2 separate regions of the Homo sapiens genome follow, and region 1 is linked to region 2. The links come from fine-mapping of genetic effects on gene expression. Tissue or cell type: blood mononuclear cells. Region 2 holds a variant in brackets; the other region holds the start of a gene. All regions are shown on one strand. Distances are from middle to middle.

The links. PIP is the estimated chance that this variant, and not a neighbour inherited with it, causes the effect.
Region 1: it holds the start of MARCHF10, and the variant in region 2 is fine-mapped to the expression of MARCHF10 in blood mononuclear cells (TOPMed, PIP above 0.99). The same link has a PIP of 0.9 or more in T cells and whole blood.

Annotation. Positions count from the first base shown.
Region 1 is chr17:62,807,098-62,809,779 of GRCh38, forward strand. MARCHF10 (membrane associated ring-CH-type finger 10) reads right to left here and starts at 1,217. Exons shown (of 11, transcript NM_152598.4): 1 at 980-1,217. It overlaps MARCHF10-DT (MARCHF10 divergent transcript), which reads left to right and starts at 1,405. Exons shown (of 2, transcript NR_135634.1): 1 at 1,405-1,854. RefSeq lists a silencer at 1,106-1,255.
Region 2 is chr17:62,723,599-62,726,280 of GRCh38, forward strand. It overlaps MARCHF10 (membrane associated ring-CH-type finger 10), which reads right to left. Exons shown (of 11, transcript NM_152598.4): 7 at 1,340-1,506. All of the region lies in intron 2 of MARCHF10-AS1 (MARCHF10 antisense RNA 1), which reads left to right. Among named protein-coding and RNA genes, the nearest start is that of MARCHF10-AS1, 19 kb to the left of the region's middle. RefSeq lists an enhancer at 1,331-1,410. The variant C/A (reference allele first, on the strand shown) is at 1,524.

The DNA of each region.
Region 1 (2,682 bases), 83 kb after region 2:
GAGAAGGATTTCAGGAGACCTTATTCAACCTTTTCCCCAATTGATTAATTTGTAATGTCAGACATTATAGGATTTGTTTAAATCTTAGCTCTAAAAAAAACTTTGCATTTTAAAGTCTTAGCTTATAAACATGTCTTGAGTATAAGCAACAAAGTTTACGATTTGGGCCCAATTTAAGAATACTGTGACTGCAGAGAAAAAGGGGGAATTGGTTGGGAAAGGTAAGGAGATCTTTCAACTCTTCCAGCCAATTTGGCTTAAGAGTTGGGGGCGGGGTGGAGGGTGGGGAACAGACTTGTGTTTGGCGGTGACTCTTCATTTTACTGTGAAACTAGGAGAGATAGGTGGTCACATTTCGACCATCAAGCCCAGAAGAGAGGAGAAACTCAACGTGTAATTGGGAAACTCTGGGGGAGGAAACGTCACAGGTTTGACAAGCAATTCAGTGCCATCATTAATAACAATATCCAGCCAGAGAAACATAACGAGACCCCTTCTTTACAAATAATTTAAAACATTAGCCAGACATGGTGTTGGCCTGTGGTCCCAGCTACCACCGGGAGGCTGAGGCGGGAGGATCGCTTGAGCCTGGGAGGTCGAGGCTGCAGTGAGCCCTGACTGCACCGCTGCACTCCAACCTGGGAGACAGAGCGAGACTCCTTCTCAAAAATAAACAAAATCAATATCGACCATTTCGCATTCAGAAGCCCAGTGGGCCATGGTCTGTGTATACCTTTTCTGACCAGTGGCGTCTGCAGGAAAGAATGTGGGTGCCAGTGAGCAAAGGTTCACGGTCTCCCCCAAACCTGTCCCTCTGAGACAGAAAAATGCTGGGGCTGGGGTCAGCCGAGGGGAGGGGACGGCCAGGCCACCGGATGTCAGGCCCGGTTTCCCTCCAGAATCTTGTAAGTCGAAAGGGAAGGTTGTCCCCCATCCTGGGAGAACTGGAGCGGAGCGGCGGGGGCGAGGGGGCCGTTACCTGTGGGTCTGCCCTTCCTCCCCTGCCGGGGCTACAGGGGTCGAGGGGCTGGGCGGGCGGGCCGGTCCAGGGCGCAGGAGCCGCCCATTAATTGCGCGGGGACGGCCCTGAGCTCCTCTTCCTCCTCCTCTTTTTGCTTCTTCACTCCCTACACCTGCCCCTCTTCCTCCTCCTTCCCCGAGGCTGCTTTCCGCGGCGCCGGCCGGCCTTGCCTGGGGCGGAGGCGGTGGGGGCGGCTACCGGGCGTCCTCCGGTTTCCCTAGCAACCGCGCCTCCCCGCCCCCGCGCGACCAGGTGCAGCCGCCGAGAGCACGGGGCGGGGCGGGGCGGGGCTGTGGCCCCGGGGTCCCAAGCCAGTCGTGGGCGCCCGCCGGTTGCCGTGGGAACGAGGCGGGCTGCAGTCGGGGAGTCAGAGCCACGCTGGTGGGCAGAGAAGAGATGCCCAAGGAGGAGGCGGTTGGCTTTGTCTGGGTGCCCAAGCCCAGACCCAGATATCCAGGCCTCTGCTCCCTTCCCTGAAAGGGTGCTGTGCTTCATAAAAAATGAGATTAGAAAACGAGAGAGGAAAATATTTTTAATGGAATCAGGGAATGTGAAAAGCGGTACATGCGAAGAGGAAAAGATACTGCAGTCCTGGAGTTCGACCTCTGCAGAGGACATCTGGAATGCTCTGGTCCAACACGAAAAAGAAGAAATAAGCGATGAAGCCAGGCACCCAGTCAGTGGCAGAACCGACATTAGAGCCCAGGCCTCTTCGTAATCAGTCGTCTTCACCCCCTTTCCAAGGAGAGAGGTGCTTAGAGGCCTAGACCAGGCCCTACAGCTTTGGAGCCAGGGCACCAGAACCGCTACTACCCTCACCTTCTCTGTGCCAGGTTGATTTCTTTCTTTTTCTTTTCTTTTCTTTTCTTTTTTTTCTTTCTTTCTTTTTTTTTTTTTTAGACAGAGTCTTGCTCTGTAGCTCAGGCTGGACAGTGCAGTGGCACGATCTTGGCTCACTGCAACCTCTGCCTCCGGGGCTCAAGCGATTTTCATGCTTCAGCCGTCCGAGTAGCTGGGATTACAGGCATGCGCCACCACACCCGGCTAGTTTTTGTATTTTTTTTTTTTTTTTAAGTAGAGACGGGGTTTCTCCATGTTGGCCAGGCTGGTCTCGAACTCCTGACCTCAAGTGATCCGCCCGCCTGGGCCTCCGAAAGTGCTGGGATTACAGGCATGAGCCACCTTGCCCGGCTTTGCCGGGTTGATGTCTGTCTGTGGTTCTCATGGGCAAAGATGACTCCCCTATTTACTTTGCATATTTAGGCTCTCAACTTGTCAACTGATGTCAAGTTAGGGTATTTTTGATTGAGTGGAGAGTAAGGTAAAGGAAGAATAGAAATTCTTGGAACTTTCATCAGTGCCCGGAATCCCTAGGTGTCTGTGGTTTGACCGTCTTCTCAACACCTCCCCTTCCCCCCATTCAGTTGGTGCCAAGTCCTTGGCAGCGTCACATTCTTCTTTCTATTCTTATCACTCTAGTTTTGGGCTCCATGACCTAGTTTTGGGCTCCATGGATTATTCTGAGGGCCTCCTGGTCACACCCTGGGCGCCTGTCCTCCACACCCTATCTTCACCATTTCCCCCATCCTATAAGCAGCCTACATCTAATGTTGCTGGCCCCCTGCTTAAAAAGCCCTGAAAGGTTCCTCACCGCCTGTGGA
Region 2 (2,682 bases):
TAGGCTACCAAATGTCCCATGAGTCTTCCGATCGAATCCTACTGAACACACCCATACAAGCGTTGACATTTATGAGCATAGCAGCATTTTCATGACATGTTTCACAGGTAACTTTTTCTGTGTTAGATGTTTAATTGGCCCAAATTTCTAGGAAGATAAAGGATTGCATGGCAGAGTCGTTAGCAACCAAAATCTACTCGTTTTCTTCCCTCTCTGAAGGACTGAATATTTTGCTCGTTATATGGATATGCGTTTAAGCATCTTGATCAGTGGACTTATATTTCTTATGCTAGGGAAGTTGCATAAAACGGGCTCCATGGATGACACAGTAATATGATTACCCCACGTGTTCATTCTCTGATTCCATGGTGTGCTGTCCTTGGTGAGGGGGCGTGGCAACACCTCATGGGGACAGGGTAAAGCTCTAAGTCTCCCTGCAGCCTGGATAGTGACGGCTAAGGAGAAGGATATGGAAGACGGGGAGAAATAGGATCTGGCTGTGGGGGGATATGTTTTCAGAGATGTGTGTCTGAAAGAAGCCGCAGCTATTTTCTGATCAAGTTGCTCTTTGCACTGATGTTCCATGCATTTTTTTTTTTTTTTTGCTTAAAGTTGATCTCATTCCTAAAGCCATGCTTTAAAGAAACCTTCTGTTCTCTGCCCAGAAAACTACAGCCGACCTACCGATGTGGTTGTATTTAGGTTATAACCTGCTCAGGGAGTTGAGAAGGTGCCGCACACCCAGTTATAAGATGCTAGGGAGCTGACAAAATCAGCACATGGAAATTTCTTTATCTAATATGGTTCTAGACAATCAGATCAGCACTCTTATCCCTATTGCTAAAAGGCAGCTTTGTTTAGTTTCTTAGGTGACCCCCAAATAAAAGGAAGTAGGATGTGTGTGCTGGGGGTCTCTCATGAGGGACCTTCTGAAGTATTTTGCTGGGTGTCTGCTAGCTGGGCACGGCTACTGTGTGTCTGCTGAGCTTCCACCGCTGACCCACTTCTATTTCCTTCCTCCTGAGAGGCGATCTTAGCATCTCTGCTCAGGCCTCAAGCAGAGGTAGAATTCAATAGCATTTGTTCCCAGGAGTCTTCTCTCAGATAAAAGCAAAAAACAAAAAACAAACCAAAACAAAAACAAACAAAAAACCCCCAACTCCCTCCCATAGTTTAAAGACAGCTTTTATGAGCAAGGATCTGGAGCTCAGCCACGTGTCCCTGAGTCGCTGTTCTGCGGAGGAGAGTGAGCTGATGACAAGGCTCCGGGGCCCACACCGTGGTGCCTCATGTTAATTACATGTCGTGGCACGTTCACTGCACTTCCTTCCCCACCTACCTGATGTTATTTTCACTTTCAGCCACTTTTTCAGGCACTCTTGATGAACAAACTGCAGGCTTCCCACACAGCCGCAAGGCTCCAGGAGGGGGTTGCTTGGGGAACCCCCGGCTATCTGACAGATGCGACACAAGTCTCCCTCCTCCTCGGAGTCCTCCTCCAGGAGACTAAATGTGAAAACAAG[C/A]CCTCGTGACCAGGAGGCTACACGTTTGCAGTTTCTACAAATACCAGTTCCCAGAGCATTGACAGAGAAGGAAGAGGGCTCCTGGTACTCACCCGCTGCCCCCTCTGACCCTAGTGAGATGATTTTTGATAACACAGGCACAAATTCTCTCTTTTTTTTTGAAACAGAGTCTCACTCCGTTGCCCAGGCCGGAGTGCAGTGGCACAATATTGGCCCACTGCAGCCTCAACCTCCTCAGGCTCTGGTGATCCTCCCACTTCAGCCTCCCAAGTAGCTGGATTACAGGTGCATGCCACCACACCTGGCTATTTTAAAAATTATTTTGTAGAGATGGAGTCTCACGATGTTGCCCAGACTGGTCTTGAACTCCTGGGCTGAAGCGATCCACATGCCTTGGCCTCCCAAAGTGCTGGGATTACAGGTGTGAGCCCCTGGGCCTGGCTGAGGCACAAATTCTTGTAACAGGCTTCTTTGCAATTGTCAATACGTGTGAGCTGACATGGAGGACCAGCACTGCCACCATAAATCAAGAGGTAAAGGGAAATGGCTACAGAATCATTTTCAAACTGGAGTCAAGGCCAGGAGCCCCTCTCCCTGCCAGGAAGTTGGTGGGGGTGGCATACTGGTGAGTGCATGGGATTCGTGGTCAGGGGGCCTGGGTTTGAGGCCAGCCTCTGAAACTTGTGAGTTGTGTGACTTTGGATAAGTTCCTTAATCTTCCCAAGACCCTGTTTCCTCATCTGTACAATGAGGGTCATGGTGATAACACCACTGCCACCTACTTCCTAGGGCTGTGGCCAGGCTGGCTACGTGTGACAATGAGGAACCTGTTCTGCAAACTGTAAAGTACATCTAGTGTCTGGCAAGGTGTTGTGCACAGAGTTCACTTAATAGATGTTGGTTTAGGTGGATGATGAACCAATAAACCTGGACACAATCTCCCGAATAACACCACACATGCCAACAAATGACATCAGCATTCCAGAATGTAAGCGGCTGGAATCTGATGAAGATAAGAACTAACGAAAATGTAAGTAAAGATATTTGTGTCTAATAAATGGTGAGTGAAGAATAGCTGGTCGATGTTCATGTTGGGAGGTTTTAAGAAGCCTAAGGCTATTTTCTTTTCTTTAGAGTCCTCACGGGACTGGGGGCCATC